Linked DNA regions of Homo sapiens: region 1 is linked to region 2. The links come from fine-mapping of genetic effects on gene expression. A gene starts in region 2. The other region holds a variant in brackets. All regions are shown on one strand. Distances are from middle to middle.

Region 1 (10,213 bases), 420 kb before region 2:
ACTCTGTCTCAAAAAAAAAAAAAAAAGAAGTCCATTTTTATTGCTGAGCAATAATTCATTGTATGGACATACAGCAGTTTGTTTATTCATTCATCTGATGATGGATATTTGGGCTGTTTTCCACTTTTTTGGAAGCTGCTATGAACACTCACATTTAAGTCTTTGTGGACATATGTTTGCATTTTTTTAAGATAAATGCCTAGAAGTGAAATCTTAGATCCTGTTGTAAGTGAATGTTTTACTTGATAAATAAAAGACTGCCAGTTTGGTGCAGTGGCTCATGCCTGTAATCCCAGCACTTTGGGAGGCCAAAGCAGGCAGACTGCTTGAGTCCAGGAGTTTGAGACCAGCTTGGACAACATGGTGAAACCCCATCTCTACAAAAAATACAAAAATTAGTTGGGTGTGGTGGCCCAGGCCTGTAGTCCCAGCTACTCGGGAAGCTGAGGTGGTAGGATCATCTGAGTGTAGGAGGCGGAGGTTGCAGTGAGCCATGATCTTGCTTCTGCACTCCAGCCTGGGTAACAAAGCATGACCCTGTCTCAAAAAAAAAAAAAAAAGTTACTGATTTATTCATAAAATAAGATAAATTTTTAAAAAAGAGAAGTGCCATACTGTTTTCCAAAGAGTCTGTACCATTTTCCACTTACCAGCATTATATGAGAGTTCCAGTTGCTTTGCATCCTTGTCAGCACTTAGTATTGTCAGTTTCTTCTTTCTTTCTTTTTTTTTTTTTTTATGAGACAGAGTTTCGCTCTGTTGCCCAGGCTGGAGTGCAGTGGCATGATCTCGGCTCACTGCAAACTCCACCTCCTGGGTTCACGCCATTCTCCTGCCTCAGCCTCCTGAGTAGCTGGGACTACAGGTACCCGTCCCCATACCTGGCTAATTTTTTTATTTTTAGTAGAGACGGGGTTTCACCATGTTAGCCAGGATGATCTCGATCTGACCTTGTGATCTGCCCACCTCGGCCTCCCAAAGTGCTGGGATTATAGGCATGAGCCACCGTGCCGGCCTTAGTATTGTCAGTTTCTTAAAAAAAAAAAAAAAAAAAAAAAATCTAGTAGGTGTGTAGTGCTGCCTCATTGTGGTTTTAATTTGCATTTTCCTAATGTTTAATGACATTGAGCATCTTTTTATGTGCTTTCTTGTCACCAGTATCTCATATTTGGTGAAATCTATTCAAAGTATTTGCCCATTTAAAAAACTGGAATGTTTGGCTTCTTGTTACTGAGTTTTAAGAGTTCTTTATATATTCTGGATACAAGTCCTTTGTGAGTATATGAATTAAAAATATTTTCCCCTAATTGGTGGCTTGCCTTTTTATTTTCTTTATAGTGTCTTTTGAGGAGCAGAAGTTTTAAATTTTGGTGAAGTCTAATGTTTTGCTTTTTTCTTGTATGGCTAGTGTTTTTTGTATCCTGCATAAGAAATCTTCCCTTACACCAGGTCACAAAGATTTTTTTCCTACATTTTCTCCTATATCTAAAAGTTTTATGATTTCAGCTTTTACATTTAGGTCTTTTATGTCTATGATCCATTTTGATCGCATGCTTAATTTTGTTCTCACTGCACAAAAGACACAGTAGGAAAGGAAGAATCTGGAATAAAGATGACTGCCTCTTTCAAAAGACAGGTTGTAGAATAGAAATATTAAACTTTTGTTCTGTGTATTATATTATCTTCATCTAATATTGATTAAGTAGTAACTGTTCAGTAGTAAAATATATATAGATTACCTACTCTGAGTCAGGCACTGGAGATACAGTAATGAAAACACTAGACAATGTCCTTGCTCCCTTGGAGTTTATATTTGAGTGGGTGAAATTGTGTTTTTATTATAATGAGCCTCCATTGTATATACAGTAAAGTCAAGAAAAATGTTGTTGCCTCTCTGTGATTTCTCAAAACCTCAGTTGAAGGAAGCATTTTAGATTGTTGGTAATCTTCTTAATATTATTGTATGATAGAGCATGAACCTCTTTCCAAAAAGAGTCACTGATCTGCAGAGAAAAGGGAATCTGGGGCTGCATACGGCCAACTATAATACAATGTGTCATGTGATAGAGCAGTACTGCATGCAGAATCATATCAAATGATCTCATGTTCCTGTTACTGTTGAGGTGTAATGACCAGCCTTAATGCTCTTTTCTTTGGTTTAAGCAAATTGGTTTTTTTTTTTTTTTTTTTTTGCCGAAAGAGTTCATTAATACTACATTTAGAGAACTCTTAGATCTCTTTTCTGATAGCCAGAGGACCAGATACCTTCTATAATTAGCCATTCATGTGTTCCTTAAAATGAGTCATACTATGTGTTAATGATACCACCATTCTTCAAGCCACTTCAAGTATCAAAAATAAGTTCCATTTACTATTAACATTTATAAACTAATACCAATATTAAATAGCCAAATAATAAATAGGGTTAAATCAGAGCAGGATGAGCTCTATGATCTAGTCTTGGATGATGAGTAGGATTTCAGTAGATACAAATAAAGAGGGCAGATTAATTTATATTGATGGATTTGAGGAAAAAGATTACATCAGCAAATACGTTATTCATGGCTTGATTCCTTTATCATCTATCCATAGCAGACATCATTAAATTCATCATGGCATTCTTTCTTGCTGAGCCTGGACATAGCCTGGTAAGACTAGAACTAGATAATAGGAAAAGAAATGTAGACATTAAGTGGACATTTGTTGTTGTTGTTGTTTTGCACTCTGTCACCCAGGCTGGAGTGCAGTGGCACGATCTCAGCTCATTGCAGCCTCCGCCTCCCAGGTTCAAGCGATTCTTGTGCCTCAGCCTGAGTAGCTGGGATTACAGGCGCCCACCATGACACCCAGCTAAGTTTTTGTATTTTTAGTAGAGACAGGGTTTCGCTATGTTGACCAGACTGGTCTCCAACTCCTGATCTCAGGTGATCTGCCCGCCTCAGCCTCCCAAATTGCTGGGGTTATAGGCATGAGCCACTGTGCCTGGCCAGATTTTTTTTTTTTTTCTTTAAGACAAGGTCTGGCTCTGTCGCTCTGATGCAGTGGCTCACTGCATCCTCCCACCTCACCCTCCCAAGTAGCTGGGACCACAAGCATGTGCCACCACTCTTGGCTAATTTTTGTGTTTTTTGTAGAGATGAGGTTTCACCATGATGCCCAGGCTGGTCTTGAACTCCTGAGCTCAAGCGATCCACCCACCTTGGCCTCCCAGAGTGCTGGGATTACAGATGTGAGCCACTGTGCCTGGCCGTGGACAGGTTATTTTGAAAGAGACATCAGTGAGACTTTATGGAGATGTCTGACCCTGGAGGTCAAGATGTGGGGCATTCCCTATGTGCAACAGGGAAGCCCTTGGCACAGAGACTATGAAGGGTTTCTGTTGCATGCATCTGAGGGGTGCAATAGGTATCACAACCACACTCAGAAAAAATAGTGCCAGGGGAAGATGGTGCAATTTATTCTGCCAGAGGGTACCACTCAGGCTATCTCCAGGCTGAGAGAGACCCTGGAGTTATACTAGCACAGAGCTGGACCATGGTTGCCAGCAGAGTAAGCAGCAAACAGGGGCAAAGGAACATTGGCCTGGAGATCTTAAGAAGCTAGAGGAGCACTTCCTCAAGGGTTGCAACTTTTTCCTGCTGCTATGAAGTCCCCTTCCCCTGATATATCCAGATCCATCTCAGGTAGATAAGCAGGAGAGGGGTTGCTATCTGAGAGACTGAGCAGTTTTTATTCAGGAGAGTCTGAGCAGTACCTAAAAAGACATTAAATGATCAGATAGGACTACGTTAAACTGGTTTGGGGGCTTAAGAGGGACAATGTAGGCAACTGTGAAGATGCACAAGACCTTCATGTGAGTAGAGGGTGCCCTCAGCTCACCCACCACTTTCGATAAACTGAGGCAGGACTGAATGTGGAATGAGGCAGGCCTGTTTACTGTGTCCAGGAGGGACTGATTGGGCCCATTTGAGATAAGTTAGGTAGCAAGCGGCCTAGCTGAGCAGGGGGCTAGGTGCACTCAGCTGCAGGGGCACTGCGTGCCCATGTGTACCTGCCTCAGCACCACCAGTGTCACAGCCCTGGCTGCACCCATTGCCAAGGAAGAAAGAACCATGTGGTTGAAACACATCTACTGTACCTGGCCCTGTCAGACTTGGGAGGACAGGTTCTTGTCTTGTTGTCCTTGATGCTGTTTCCATCAGCATCCACCTGTTATCTCTCCTCACCCTGAGGAGCTCAACCCACCCTGATTTTGTCATTCATTTTTTTTCTCATTCGCTCATTCTTTTATTGAGTCTGTTATGCCATGTACTGTGCTAGGCACTGAGGACACAGTATTTTGTAGAGATAAGGGAATAAACACACATGAATACAATGAAGTTTGAGCAATATTAAGCTTCAGAAATATTACTGAGAAAATACAGAGTCTTATTGGAGTACACATATTTGGGAGAACATAGTTTGTAAAGGAAGTAGGAAGGTTTGTGCTGTGATCTAATAATGATTTTGAGGTAATCAGATGAAAAGTCGGAAGAAAGTTTCAGGCAGAAGGAACAACGTGCAAAGATGAGAGAAATTAAAGGAACAAAAGTTCAGTGTGTCTAGAGTGTAGAGGATGAGGAAGAGGGATGTGACGTGAGATGAGGCTGAAGAGAGGCAGGGACCTGACCATGGGGCACCTTGAAATTCAGGATCAGTTGTTTGTATTTCATCCTAAGCACAATGGGAAGCTATTCAAGAGTTTTATGCAGAGGATTGACTTTGCCAGCACTGCATTAAAAAAATTAACTTAAAAATTTTAATGTAGTTCAAATCTGCATGTCTGGTTCATTTCAGCTCCTTCACTGCCAAACCTGGGGGCAGGGACTGCTTCAGTTTCTCCGCCTAAGATTCTTACCAGTACTGCATTTTGAATGTTTTATAGTGTGGGTTGGAGTGGATCAACACTAGATGCTGGGAGACAAGTTAAGGGATTGTTAATTAGTCCAGATGAAGGATGATGGTGGTTTGAACTGCATAGGGTAGAGGTAGTAGGGAAGATAGATTTGGGGCATATTTTGGAGGTATGTCCAGCAAGGCTTAGATGTGGAGAGTAGTGAGGGAGATGGAGAATTCAAGAATAACTGAGGTTTTTGGCTGAGCACCTATGTGGATGATAGTGTCCTTTGCTGAGTAGGAGAACACTGGGTGGGAAGATATTTTGGAGGAAAATCATGTGTCTTGTTTGGATGTTGAGTTCAAAGTTCTTACAAGACCATCAAGTGAAGATATCCTGTGGGCAATTAGGTATATGATTTGAAAGCTGATAGAAATGGACTGGTGATTCATTCTTGGCACATAGAAATTGGTTATTGGAGCAATGGGCATAGGTATTACCATGGAGAGAGAGAGAGAGAGAGAGAGAGAGAGAGAGAGAGAGAGAGAGAG[T/C]TGAGTGGAAAACGAAATCTAGAATAGATCCCTGAGGATCATCAATCAACCCAGGGGCAGGTAGAGAAGGAAGGGTCAGTAAGAGACTGAGAAAGAGCTGCCAGCTGGTTGGAAGAAACCTGGACAGTGTGGTGTCATGGAGGGTGTACCACTACAGTCAGCTGTAGGGGAGTGTTAAGAGTGTTTGGCTGCACTCCTGGAGATGCTTAGGTTACTTATAATAATTGAATGAGTGAGTAGGCTACAGAGGATCAGAGGAGCACACCTGGAGCTCCCAGCCTCCGCTAAGCATCTCCCTAATAAATAGAGCAGCCTTCTGCCTGTCAAATCTGAAGAAAACCTGAACTCCAGGAAGTAGCAGGGGTTCAGAGGAAAGAACAGGTACTCACACAGGCGTATTATATCTTCAGGGTAAACCTTTAACCTGGTGAGGTTTGGTAGGATCAGAGTGAATTTCAGTCTCTGGATCTGAAGCATCCCATTAATTTTGTTGCCCTTTTATCATTTCTAGAAGCTGAACTTAATTTTTTTCTCTGTCTTTGCCTCTATCTTTGCCCCTCTGATTCTCTAGCCCAGTTGATTCTCCTTGGCTCTTGATCTTGGTTTAGTTTGGCTAGCACTCCTTTTCTGAGGAGTAACTTCCGTAACAAATATTTATAGTAACCCCTCTGCTTGGCTGGCAAGTCCCGGAACCAGTGTCCTTACACACTGTCCTAAAAAGCAGTCAGCCCGGAGCACAGCCAGCTTTATTGGCCTAGATATGATTAGATGCTTCCTTTACCCCTTCTGGAGGTGTTAGTGGTTCTGAGCCTTGGAAGTTCTGTTCTCCTTAACCATCTCCTTCTCTCCCGTTTTGCTTTTCTGAAACATATTTATTAGCTAGATGTTAAGGTTAGTAGTTCTACCCTTCAGTGAAGATTGATGAAAAATTAGCCCAAAATTGCTGTCTTCTAATTCCAAAAATCTATAATCTCTATGTTCTGTGAATTGGGTCTGAGGCTAGCTCTTAGCTTATTTCAGGACCTAAATTTAACATACCCTGGGTTTAAGTGGTGGGTTGTAATTTCTATGTAGGAGAAGCTTAAGGGGAGAAATCTGATTGGAAGAGAAGGGAGGCAGTTAGGTTTGCCTTAAAGCTGAGTACACAAGAGTAATCTGGCTGTAATCCAGCTGGCTGGGACTGACTGCCAGAAAAATTAAAAAACAAAGATGTGATTGATAAAAATGTGTACTTTGTTCATGTAAGTGAGTTTTAAAAATGTAGACTCTAAGACCTTTTTTCTCTATCTTCCGTTTGCCAATTATTGCATTTACATAGTTTCTTCCTTCCTTCCCCAAACAAGGTATAACACCATAAACCTGAGAATTTTAGACACATGCTTTGCTCACTTTTTTTCTATTTATGTATTATTTTTATTTGGTTTGCTTTTGGGGGAGGGGAGGCAGGAGTTGCCATTTGTGCCAACAACTCTTTCTCAAATATTCCAAGCAATCTTTTCCTTGGGGAGTTGTACTACACAATTCTATTAATTACTGTTGTGCAATATTGAGATACCTTACATATGTAGCAACAGTGACACATATGCCCACACCCAGTGAAACAAGGTCATTTTCTACTGTCAGTTATATGCATCAAGGTGACAGGTGACGGCATGGTTATGGATTAACTCACCAAGGAAATGAGTGTGGAAAGAAGAATGCAGAAATCTGAGGACTAGAGCCTGGAGATGGGGAGCTTCGAGCTCAGAGGAAGAAGAGGATCTTCATCACGGGGAGACATCAGCTGGATATTGAGATGGAAGGATGACTATGAGTATGAGCTATTATAGAAACCATGGTAAGAGTTTTAAGTAGATGACAGTAACATCAAATGTGACTGATGTGTAACTGGAGGAACTTACTGTCATATGCAAACTAACAACTCCACTGTATTCTTCTTCATCCAGATCATTTGTAAAAATTTTATACTAGAGGCCAGGCGCGGTGGCTCACGGCTGTAATCCCAGCACTTTGGGAGGCCGAGGCAGGCGGATCATGAGGTCAGGGGATCGAGACCATCCTGGCTAACACGGTGAAACCCCATCTCCTAAAAATACAAAAAATTAGCCGGGCGTGGTGGCGGGCGCCTGTAGTTCCAGCTACTCAGGAGGCTGAGGCAGGAGAATGGCGTGAACCTGGGAGGCGGAGCTTGCAGTGAGCCGAGATCGGACCACGGCACTCCAGCCTGGGCAACAGAGCGAGACTCTGTCTCAAAAAAAAAAAAAAAAAAAGTTTTATACTAGACTATTCAACAAATATTTTTTGAGCTGCATACTAACTGTGGTGGGGTTGTATAAATGAGCTATAAAGTTGTGTTTTAAAGTAATATGTCTTCATAAACAAATATGCTGGTAATTTATACATAAAACTCTCAAACTTTACTGGTGTATTTGTTAAGTGGAGACTACAGACCTATTTCAGTGACATTTACAAAAAGTCCTTTGGTATTCTTTTATCCTTGTGGTACCTTAAAAAAACCCATATATAGCTTCTTATTGCAAAAGTAATACATAATTATTGAAAAGTACAGCCAGGCATGGTGGCTCACACCTGTTACCCCAGCACTTTGGGAGGCTGAGTCGGGAGGATCACTTGAGCCCAGGAGTTCAAGACCAGCCTGGGCAATATAGTGAGACCTTGTCTCTACGAAAAATAAAAAACAAATAGCCAGGTGTGGTGGTGAATGCCTATAATCCCAGCTACTCAGGAGGCTGAGGCAGGAGGATTGCTTGAGCCCAGGAGGTTGAGCCTGCAGTGAGCTGAGATCGCACTACTCTGTCAGCCTGGATGACAGAGTAAGAACCTGTCTTAAGTAAAAAGAAAGAAAAGAAAAGAAAAGAAATATATATGTATAAATTCTAACACATACTATTCCTAAAGAGACAGTCACTCTTAACATTTTGATTTATACTGTTCCAGGTTTCCTTTTTCTTTTTTTTTTTGAGACGGAGGCTGCTTTGTCACCCAGGCTGGAATGCAGTGGTGCTATCTTGGCTCACTGCAACCTCTGCCTCCTGGATTCAAGCGATTCTCCTGCCACAGCCTCCCAAGTAGCTGTGACTACAGGCGCATGCCACTAGGCCTGGCTAATTTTTGTGTTTTTAGTAGAGATGGGGTTTCATCATGTTGGCCAGGCTGGTCTCGAACTCCTGACCTCAGATAATCCACCCACCTTGGCCTCCCAAAATGCTGGGATTACAGGCGTGAGCCACCGAGCCCAGCCCCAGGTTTCTTTTTAAAAATTATTTATTTATTTAATTTTTAAAATAAATAAAAGAGATGGGGTCTTGCTATGTTGCCCAGGCTGGTCTTGAACTCCTGAGCTCAAGCAATCCTCCTGCCTTGGACTCCCAGTGTTGGGGTTGCAGGTGTGAGCCACCACACCTGGCCCGTATTATTATTTCTGAAGATCTTTTTATATGTGAAAAAACAATCCATTGTTATTTCAGTTTTATAGCCACTTTAAAAAATGTGTATTGGTGCACAAACTTTATTCTCTGATGATAAATTTCATTAAAACAGTCAAAAATTATTATAAGTTGGTTGAATGAAGTGAATGGTTAATCTGGGTTATTCCGGTTTTCGTTGAATGTACATGGGACTCTGAAGGGGTCATACCCCAGTTCTACCACTGCTGGGTCCTCAGGAGACTCAGCCTCAGCACCTTGCTCCCCCATGGCAGCAAACGCCTCCCTCCCTGAGAGACTGACTGTGCTCAGCTCTGGTCAGGGCAGGCTGCACAGGCCTTTTGCTGGATGACCCGGTAGGCAGACTAAGTGTGTGCCTTTAGGGTCCCAGCAAAGCAGTGGTACTAAATAGATTTGGAGGAAAGGATGTTGCTGTGTTTTTAAAAACATGGAAGTACTTGGCCGGGCGCGGTGGCTCACGCCTGTAATCCCAGCACTTTGGGAGGCTGAGGCGGGTGGATCACGAGGTCAGGAGATAGAGACCATCCTGGCTAACACGGTGAAACCCCGTCTCTACTAAAAATACAAAATAGCCGGGCGTGTTGGCGGGCGCCTGTAGTCCCAGCTACTGGGGAGGCTGAGGCAGGAGAGTGGCGTGAACCCGGGAGGCGGAGCTTGCAGTGAGCCGAGATTGTGCCGCTGCATTCCATCCTGGGCGACAGAGCAAGACTCTGTCTCAAAAACAAAACAAAAAAAAACATGGAAATAGTTACTATGGGGAAATTTGAATTTATTGATTTTATTTTTATTTCTTTTTTGGAGGAGGGGAGTACTATAATCTTTTCAGTGTTTTTGGTTTTTATACAGGTCAATTCCCCTCTTTGACTCATCCCAAATTTTGGTGGGGGGGGCTTCAGTCACATCCTTGTCTTTTTCAGCAGCCTCCTCCCCATATTGTCTCGAGGATTGGGAAGCAGGAAATTTATAATACCCTTTTCTCTCTGTTTTCTCCAAATTCATTTTCTCTCCTGTGTTCCTTTGGGAGAAAAGGGAAATCAGTTCTGTCTCTTCACTCCTCTATATTACTCCATCTGGATGGACCCACACTGATAGCAGTGAACCTTGAACTTGGCAGTTTTGGAGCCAGGGTCTTTGCCCTCAGTGCAGTAAATTCATTTTTTTTTGTTTAGCTGCCAGATTTAGGGTCCAAACAGGAAAACAGAACTCACTCTAAGCATTTAAACCAGAGGGCATTTAATCCAGAGAATTAGCTGGCTGTGAATATGGTGGAAGAGCTGAGAAGCCTTTCAAGGGAAGGTGAGGCAATGCAGGGGAAGATT
Region 2 (10,213 bases):
CTTTCAGACTTGAACTGCAACATCGACTCTTTCGTGGGACTTCAGCCTGCTGGCCTACCCTGCAGATTCTGGACTTGCCAGGCTCCACAATCACGTGAGTCAATTCCTTGAAACAAATCTCTGTGTCTGTGCCCCTCTTTATCTGTCTCACTCTCAGTCTCTATGTATGTATATATACATATATGTACCTATGTGTATGTATAGATACATATGTGTACATATGTGTATGTATATACATACGTGTATGCATGTGTATGTATATATACATATGTGTATGTGCATGTATATATATACACATATGTGTGTATGTGTATATGCATGTATGTATACATGTGTATATATGTATGTATGCATGCATACACGTATGTATGCACGTATCCATACACGTATGTATGTGCCTATGTATATGCATGTATGCATACATGCACATGCATGTGTATATATATGTGTATGCACATATACATATGTATATACATGCATGCACATATATGCATGTATGTATGCATGTATGTGCATATGCACATGTATACATATATGTATATATTTGTGCATGCATGTATATGCATATACATACATGTATATATGTATTATACATGTATATATACACATTCACAGAGATATACACATTACTATGGACTATGTATTTGTGTCCCCTCAGAACTTCATGTTGAAGCCCTAACCCCAAGTGTGGCTATATTTGGAGTAGAGGCCTCTAAGGAACTAATTAAGTTAAATAAGGTAATATGGGGTAGAGCCTAGATCCAATATGATTAGTGCCCTTATAAGAGACATAAGAGAAAAGGCCATGTGAGGACAGAGTGAAGGTGGCCATCTGCAAACCAAGAAGAGAGCCCTCACTAGAACCAAATCAGCTGGAACCTTAATCTTGAACTTCTAACCTCTAGTACAGTGAGAAAATTAATTTCTGCTGTTTAAGCCACCCAATCCATGGTGTTTTGTTCCCCAGCATATGGATATATATACATGTATACATATTATGCATCTTCTATTGATTCTGTTTCTCTGGAGAACCCTGACTAGAACAATACAGTCCTTCTAGGTCTTTCTTGGCCATCATCTATTGAGTTTCCCCTTGGTGGTTCTAAACCTCTCCTCTCTTTTCTACTGGTTCTCACTTTACTGGAGCAATTGAGTCCCTCAGAGTTGTCCTCAGCCTTGTCTCTGCCTCTAAAATCCTCCCTCCTTAGCCCATCCTTCCCACCACCTCTCCTTCTTCTATGACTTCAACCTCTATCTTCGGCATACAAATGTATTCAAGCATTCAAGTCTCTCTTACCTAAACATCACCCCAACCTTAGAGCCCTCTCTAGCCACAGCTCTCCCTCCTTTCCTCCTTTCCCCTTTCCTTTTTTTTTTTTGAGATGGAGTCTCACTCTGTACCCAGGCAGGAGTGCAGTGGGATGATCTCAGCTCACTGCAACCTCCACCTCCCAGGTTCAAGCAATTCTCATGCCTCAGCCTCTCCAATAGCCGGGACTACAGGCACATGCCACCATGTCCGGCTAATTTTTATATTTTTAGTAGAGGTGAGTTTTTGCCATGTTGGCCAGGCTGATCTTAAACTCCTGGCCTCAAGTGATCTGCCCGCCTCAGCCTCCCAAAGTGCTGGGATTATAGGCATGAGCCACCATGCCCGGCCCTCATTGCAAACCTTTTTTTTTTTTTTTTTTTTTTTTTTGAGACGGAGTTTCACTCTTGTTGCCCAGACTGGAGTGCAATGGCGTGATCTCGGCTCACCGCAAACCTCCGCCTCCTGGGTTCAAGTGATTCTCCTGCCTCAGCCTCCCGAGTTAGCTGGGATTACAGGCATGTGCCACCACACCCAGCTAATTTTGTATTTTTAGTAGAGACGGGGTTTCTTTATGTTGGTCAGGCTGGTCTCGAACCCCTGACCTCAGATGATCCACCCTCCTCGGCCTCCCAAAGTGTTGGGATTACAGGTGTGAGCCACGGTGCCCGGCTGCAAAGTTTTCTAATGTCTTCTACATTTAAATTTGCCCTCACTTCTCATTCTATATTAGGCAAAATTCTTTTTTTTTTTTTTTTTTTTTTGAGACAGAGTCTCACACTGTTGCCCAGGCTGGAGTGCAGCAGCGTGATCTCGGCTCACTGCAACCTCCGCCTCCTGGGTTCAAGCGATTCTCCTACCTCAGCCTCCTGAGTAGCTGGAATTACAGGTGCACACTACCATGCCTGGCTAATTTTTGTATTTTTAGTGGAGACGGGGTCTCACAATGTTGTCCAAGCTGGTCTCGAACTCCTGACCTCAAATGGTCCACCCATCTTGGCCTCCCAAAGTGCTGGGATTATAGGCGTGAGCCACTGTGCCTGGCCTGGATTAGGCAGAATTCTTTATGACAGAAACACAACTCAAAATTGTCTTAAGGGGAAAAAAAATAGAATTTATTTGTTCACAGAGCCAAAAAGTACAGAAGTAGATCTTTCACTTCAAGCATGGCTGAATCCAGGTCCTCAATGATACCAACAGGAAGTTGTCTTTCTCACTCTCTGCATTCCTCCATGTTGACCTCATTCTCACTCTCAATCTCTCCTCTTGATGACAAGATGACCACAAGAAGCTCTAAGCTTACACTTTGCCTGCTTGTCAGCTCCAGCAGAAAGAGTTAGCTCTTTCCCTAAGATTCTAGTAACAGTCCTGGAATTGAGCCTCATGAGCCTGGTTTGACTCACTTGTCCATTCCCAATCATTTGGGCAGGGAATGGGATGTTCTAATTGGCCAGGCCTGGGTCACATGGGGGTGGTCCACTCAATCCAAACCACAAAACTGAAAATGAGGAAGAATGGTTCCCCAAAGGAATATTGGAGTGCTGGTATCAGAACAAAGGGAATTGGATGTAGGCAGGCAGAACCAACAGATGTCCACTATGCTTCCATCCCTCAACCTAGTGCAAACTGATTTCCACTCCTGGCATCCACTGACATCTCTCTCACCAAGGTGACCAGGGAACTTGATGGCCAAGAGCATCTGCTCAGCTCTCATTCTTCACCTTTCTGCTAGTCACTCCTTCCTTCTGCAAACTCTGCTTGACTTCCATCACCCAGCTCTAACTGAACCCTCTCCAATCTCTCTGACCCACCCCTCTACCTCCTTCACATATAGCCATCCTCCAAGATTTAGGCCTCAGTCCTTCCCTCTCTAGTCTCCATCTGTGGTCCCACTCTCTCCTATACACACTTCTGTTGGGAGCCGAAAAGGCCAAAGGGATCGTGACCAACTCAGCATTCCACTGGAGGCTATATGATCAAACAGCAAACTGTTTATCATGAATGTAGGATGTGAGCAAACACACTGCACCTGCCACCAAAAGGTTTGCTGATGGACATCACTCCTTGGTGCAGGGCTCCTTGAAGTTATCTAAGAAATCTAGCACCTATTGTTCAAAAGATGCAGTCTCACAAGCCTGCTGTGAACCAAACCTCTAACTGACAATTACCGACAATCACCCCCCCTTTCTCGCTCTCTTTTGCCTACGAAATACGGAGGGATGTGTAAAACTCAGGGCCCTTGTCCACTAGAGGCAAAGTGCCCCCTGACCCCTTCTTCCAAATATACTCTTTTGTCTTGTCTTTTATTCCCATTGCCCACCCACCTTTGTTCAGTCCACCAGGGATCATGGCAGGCTACACACTTCTAGTTCCTGGACATCTTCTAAATCTTCTGTCTCCCAGCAATCACCTGGGCTCCCCCAAAGCCCTCAAACTAATGGTTCTGGCAATTTCACAGATTCATGATTTATGACCCCATCCTTTCCCCTTGCCTTTTTCCCAGCCCGTACCTCTGGTCGGTCACCAAGTTAGTCACTTCCCTACTGGGACCCGCTTTCCCATCAACGCTCCCCACTCAGCTCCATACCTCTGCCCTGCCCAGACCTTCATCATGTCACTCCTGACATCTCTGCCCACAGCCTCTGCCCCATCCATCCTGCAACCAGGGACCCGATTAACCTCCTAAGCAGCAGTTGATCAAAACATTCCTTTATCTGAAACCTTCTATGGTTCCTTATTGCCATTAAGATTCCTTAACATGGAATGCTTTCAGGGCTCCAGAATCTGTCCCCAGATTTTCCTTCAATTATTCATCTTGCTGAGCTCTTCAGACTCCAACTAATTTACTCACTGTCCCCAAAACATGCCAAACATTTTCCCACCTCTGAACTTTTACATGACACTAACATTAGACCCTCATTATTGACTCTTCTAAACGTTCCCCATATTTCAAAACTGAGCTCCAAGCCACCTCTGTGAAATCATCCGTAAACACATCAGCTATTCCTCCAATTTTGAGTGTATACTTGTTTGTTGCTTTTGCATAATATGTAATGCCTCCTCTAGCAAGGGAATCACAGGAGAGTTTCTCCCAAAGTCATGCATTTCCCCAAAAAGAATGCTGTCTGTTCCGGAGCTACTACTGTTGTGAGCAACTAAAAGTTGTCTTCCTTGGGCTCTCTCATAGTAGTCCCTGCCCCTCTTTTCCTCATGAGACTATGTCAAGGCTAATGTGAAAATACTTCATGCACTGTTGCCAATGTATGTTAGGGATGAGCATAAAACAACAGACAAGGGGAAACAGAATCAATTGCAGACCCTAACATTTTAACTTTCTTAAATGTTTTTCTTCAACACTTTCCTATGGTTCATACTTTAAATGACTTTAAAATTATGCTTTAAGTAAATATATGCTTTAAATAATTTTTATTTGCTTCATTTTTCCTTCATAGCTATCCCTTTTTTTTTGTCATCAAAGATATGTGCGTTTTTTATAAAAACACTTTCTTGTCCCCTGCTGACTACCTCTGGAAGCTTCTTGTTGACCTCTGGTTTTTTGGTTTCTTTTTTTGGCTTTTCATTTCTTAGGGTGGTGGTGGTGGTAGTGAAGGAGAGGGGTCTTCTGGTGGCCCCTGCATAAGCACTCCCCCTCAACATGAGCATGATTAACTGGAACCACTGTTATTTCTGTGGTGTAGACAAAATGAGCCATGTAGCTATTAACATCTCCCTGATTTAAAAAGAAACACGGAACTTTCTTTTTCCTGCTGTCCTTAGGGAGGAAAGGTGTAAATATAAGAGACTGTAGCTAGTATCTTGGAAGTCCCCAGGAGACAGGCGTTTCCTCTTGGTCACTGACTCTCTGGGTCACTGACGCTCCTTGAACAGCAGGGCCACCGTGTCTCCCTTTGAAGCAAGTGATCCTTAAGGAATTTTCCAGGTTTAGTAACTTCTGTCTAGCTCCGAAAAGACGTAATGGCTGCAAAAGTGCTTCGTTGAAGAAGATAAGATATATTCATTTTTAAATAAAAATACTTATGGGCGAGAAAAATCGGAGTGGACTGAATCAATTACAGTAAATCTATGGGCTCTAAGGGAGCAAATAATCCAGGCTGGCTGAAAGAATTAAATATTTTAAATTTATAAAGCCAGGGACCCTCAAATCCATAAAAGGATTCAATCTTCTTCTTCTTTTTTTTTAGGATTCAATCTTCTAATAATCCCGGGAGGGGGCGCAAGAGCAGGATTCTTGTTTCTATTTTACGAATGAGGAAACTGAGGTTCAGAAAGCCTAAGTGGCATGCCTCTTCAGTAATCGGCCAATCGTCGCTGCCCTAACTTCACCTCACCTCCCAGTGCAGCACTAGAGTCCCCTCAGGGGTGGCCGTCCCTGGTCAGTCCAGCTCCAGCAGACGGGGTGGGTAGGACGCTCCCTATCAGGCAGCACTTCCGCCTCCCGGGGCCCGCGCAGCTCACCTCCCTCACCTCCCGCCCTACCCCAGTCACGAGTTGTTTTAGGGGGACCGCCCCTCCACTTGCTGATTGGGTAGCTCCTGAACCATTGTTGTCCTCTGATTGGTTGTTCCCTTTTCGGCTCTGCAACACCGCCTAGACCGACCGGATACACGGGTAGGGCTTCCGCTTTACCCGTCTCCCTCCTGGCGCTTGTCCTCCTCTCCCAGTCGGCACCACAGCGGTGGCTGCCGGGCGTGGTGTCGGTGGGTCGGTTGGTTTTTGTCTCACCGTTGGTGTCCGTGCCGTTCAGTTGCCCGCCATGGCTGAGCTGGATCCGTTCGGCGCCCCTGCCGGCGCCCCTGGCGGTCCCGCGCTGGGGAACGGAGTGGCCGGCGCCGGCGAAGAAGACCCGGCTGCGGCCTTCTTGGCGCAGCAAGAGAGCGAGATTGCGGGCATCGAGAACGACGAGGCCTTCGCCATCCTGGACGGCGGCGCCCCCGGGCCCCAGCCGCACGGCGAGCCGCCGGGGGGTCCGGGTGAGAGTGCGGGCGCGTTTGGGGCGAGAGGACTTGTCTGGAAACTCGGTCCACAGTGGGTCCGAGAGCTTCTGTGTGACTCGTGCTCCTTGCTGAATTAGGAGGTTAGGGAGCAGTGCAAACAGGAAACGAGACCCTGGCCCGGTCTTTCAGAAACCTAGGCTCGAGAAGCCTGTTCGGTTCTCAGCATGTTTGAGTGCTTCTGGGCGCGGGCGGAGCGAGAAAGCAAGTGTAGGGTGGCAGGCTCCGGAGCCGGAAGAAGCCCGTTCAATTCAGCAACTTTTCATTAAGCATTTGCTGTGCCTTTAGTCCGGTCTCTGAAGCAACCGCATTGGCGCAGTTTTTCCAGACTTATAAGCTTATAAGTCTGAGCCGAGCACAGAACTCGTTATTAGAAAAGGAGGGCGGAAAAAAATAAGAATGGAAATATCGTTTTTGAGAGATACAAACAAAAGTAGCAATGCAGTTCAGCATTTAAGCACTTAAGGTGTACAGAGTGTTGGATTACGAGGAGGAAGGAGGGAGTAGGGAACTCGAAAGATGATCTAGGTCTGGAGAAAGAACTGCCAAGCGCGGTAGGAGTTTGCTATCGTTGAGCGATTGATTTACAGCTAGGACTTCTGGAGCTCTTCCTCTGGGAACAGCTTTGGTAGGCAATATTGCCTAAGCAGAACCCAAGATTAGCCTAAACCAATCAGGGAGGGATGAAGAGGTGAATAGAGAATGTTCTCAGCCAAACTCAAGTAAAAATGGGGCAGGTAGGATGGCAGTTTGACCTTTGGATGCCTTAACCTGTGTGTGATGCTTAGGATCATGAGTGGAAAAGACCTACTTAATAATACAAAGAAGTAGGAAATTTAGCTAGAAGAAATGAAATACGGCTTTTCATTCACTTAAAAAATTCCAACTAAGGGAGAATAGGGCACTACTGGGGCATATAGGAGTAGTGTCTACCCTAAATTCAAACCTTAAGGAGCCAGGTAGGTAACATATACGAGAGAAGCTGGCTTGACATGAGACAGTAGAAGTGTTGGAGACTGAGGCTTTGCTGCACTATAGTAGTGCTCTGTGTAAAGGCATTCAGATCCAGCAGTCTCAAGTTACTGTGCCAGCCAGGCGGAACCTTTTGATGGATGGGTTGGTGGGTGTGCTGCTAGTTTGCAGCCTCTTGAGTTTTTGACTGCACCATGTTGCTTCCTAAACAAATCAGTCCCCCAATAAGAACTTAGTGGGAACATGTAATATGCCCGAATATGCAACTTTATAGCGGGTAGGTTGGACTAAACTAGGCTGTGATTGTGAGATGAAGTTGGCCTTAAGTGATTAGGGGATATTTTCATTGGGTGGTCTCTAACATTTGTCTGAGAATTTTAAAATTGACTTCTTAGACCCTTAGTTTAACCTTCCTCATTTAATAGAAGAGAAGCAATCCTAGAGAGAAACGACTTGCTTAAAAAAGCACGAGTTAATAGCTGAGCCCCAAGTCTACCCACTCTTAGAATATACCACATTCTGTTGCAGTGTTTAGTTGTTTTAGCAGGGGTGTAGTGCGATAACAGACAGGCAGCTGTGGCTGTCCCAGGTGGAACAGATTTGGGAGAAGCAGAACCCAAGATCTGTAGTTGGAAGATTGTCCTGATTCAAGGACAGTGTTACCCTTACTGTTTTATCTCCACTGCCTAGCAGTGTGTCTGACATGTAGTAGATGCTCACGTTTGACAAAGAAATGGGCAAAAATGTCAGATCCAAGGGTCCTATGTAGAACTGACAGATCTTGGTGACGGGCAGTTAGGGAAGGTAAAAGGGAGAGAATAGAGTTGGATGCTCGGTCCTTTGTGCATCAAGCCTTCGGCAAAGGGAAGGAAAGAAATGGTTGCTGACTTAGTTCCTAGGAGGGACTTTCTTAGTGAACTAAGCATTTGGTGACTTAAAGCCAGATTCCTGACAGTGTAATTGAAGTTGGTAATATGCAGTGGTCAGCATTTCCTTTGGAGTTTAGAGAACTGATTGGACACTTTTTCTCTCTTAGTTTTCTTTTTCCTTCTTTTTTTTTTTTTTTAAAGATATGCTCTAGTGGTTAAGATTCTATGCTATCCTAAACTGCTTGAGTGTGAGTTTAGCTTTGTGATCTCAGACAATGTATATAACTACCACCACTGCCCGGCCTCAGTTTTCTCCTTTGTAAAAGTTGCATAATATAATTTATAATGCTATGTGGCATCTTTAGGATTACATTAAAGAGTGTCTATAAAGTGCTTACAGTTATATTAAGTATCTAGTGAATTCCAGCTACTATTAGTGGGAGAAAGGAGTTACAAGGCCTTTAGGCTTTGAAGTGTACTGAGTAAATTGAGGTTTTAGGCGGGAGCTCTCTTTCTGATGTATTATACAGAGATATATAGGCAGTCAGCTATGACAGATTGATGAGAGGAAAATAAACTGGCCCCAGCCTTGCGGAAAGCGTCTATGGAGGATGGGCACAGGCAAAAACCAGAGGGGTTAGGGCTAAGCCTTGGATGACTCCTTTGGTTGTTAAGAGATCCAGAAAAGAGACGTAGGTTTAGAGGCAGGAAGAAACCAGCTGGGTGAAGTGATATTGAGGTAACCAGCTGTGGGGGATATTGAGGAAGAACAGGTGGTCATGAAGGAGGCAGCACAAGTGGAGCTGTTGAAAAGCTCTCAATCATGAGGGCTGAGTCGGGGAAGAGAACAGGAGAGACAAGCCACAGAGAGAGTACAGCAGTAAGGCACTATTATGGTGTTTTGTTGTTTTTGAGACAGTCGCTCTGTCACCCAGGCTGGAGTGCAGTGGTGCGATCTCGGTTCACTGCAACCTCCGCCTCCTGGGTTCAAGCAGTTATCCTGCCTCAGCCTCCCGAGTAGCTGGGATTACAGGCGCCCACCACCGTGCCCAGCTAACTTTTTGTATTTTTAGTAGAGACGGGGTTTCACCATGTTGGCCAGACTGGTCTGAAACTCCTGACCTCAGGTGAGCCACCCGCCTTGGCCTCCCAAAGTGCTGGAATTACAGGTGTGAACCACCGCACCCGGTGACAAGTTATTTCTTGTAGGAGAAGAAAGAGACATGGGTGAATTAAAGGGAAGCTTTCTGGAGAAGTAATTTTATTGGTAGCAGTGGTGGAGGGAAGTTTAGGGAAATCTCATGCATGATAGTTAATTGTACTGCACATTTGCTGTATACCAGGTACACTTTCAGATCCCAGCAGTAGCTCCACAGGTTAAGTGGTAGTGTCATATTTCAGATGAGAATGGATCGGTGTGGAAGTTGAGCAGTGTCACTAAGGTAGCAAGGTAATAAATGGCTCAAGTGCAGCTTCAAACGTAGGTCTGCTTGACTTCAAATGTTTCTGGAATGTGGAAAGTTGAAAGTGGGTTTGGGACAGTCTTTCACTTTTGAAAACTGGCCCTTTTTCTGTCTGGAGTTCCTGAAAGGCCCTAGAAAGTTTCCTTCTGAAGCATCGTGTTGCTTAGTTTAGTTGTTGTAGTAAGTCAAGGCCCTACATGTCCTTTCTGCATGTTTCCACAGCAACAGACGATCCCTTGGCTTGAGCCAGTTGATTCTTGTAAGAATGTTAGTGCAGTAATACAGTAACTAATAAAGAGGAAAGCAGATGCCAGTGGGTCTGGAGGAGCCTTCAGACAGCATGTGATTTTTAAGGAGATGTGGGATGAGGATTGCTTCTTGTTTTGTATATGGAGTAGTGATCAAAGTCTCTCATATTCCAGCCCAGGGCTGGACTATATTAGTGGATAGTTGGTATGTCAATTGTACTATATTAACCATAATGTAGGCCTGGCCAGACTAGCCACTGTAGGATCTAGGATTTAAAACTATCTCACTCTTCTGTCTTACACAAAAATAAATTCCAGGTGGATTAAAGAGAGACATTTA

Which allele goes with the higher level. Positions count from the first base shown, and alleles are read on the strand shown. Sizes are in standard deviations (SD) of each study's normalised expression.
With allele C in place of T in region 1, the expression in CD8 T cells of the gene that starts at base 5,948 in region 2 is lower (moderate effect, 0.59 SD a copy in CEDAR).

Evidence for each region. PIP is the estimated chance that this variant, and not a neighbour inherited with it, causes the effect. A credible set is the group of variants that fine-mapping cannot tell apart.
Region 1: its variant is the best candidate, but not a certain one, in a credible set for the expression of CLTA in CD8 T cells (CEDAR, PIP 0.72).

What each region holds. Positions count from the first base shown.
Region 1 is chr9:35,765,113-35,775,325 of GRCh38, forward strand. It overlaps a transcript of RGP1 not described here. Among named protein-coding and RNA genes, the nearest start is that of MSMP, 16 kb to the left of the region's middle. The variant T/C (reference allele first, on the strand shown) is at 5,428.
Region 2 is chr9:36,184,974-36,195,186 of GRCh38, forward strand. CLTA (clathrin light chain A) reads left to right here and starts at 5,948. Exons shown (of 5, transcript NM_001833.4): 1 at 5,948-6,300. The coding sequence starts at 6,084. RefSeq lists enhancers at 5,583-6,208, 5,924-6,143.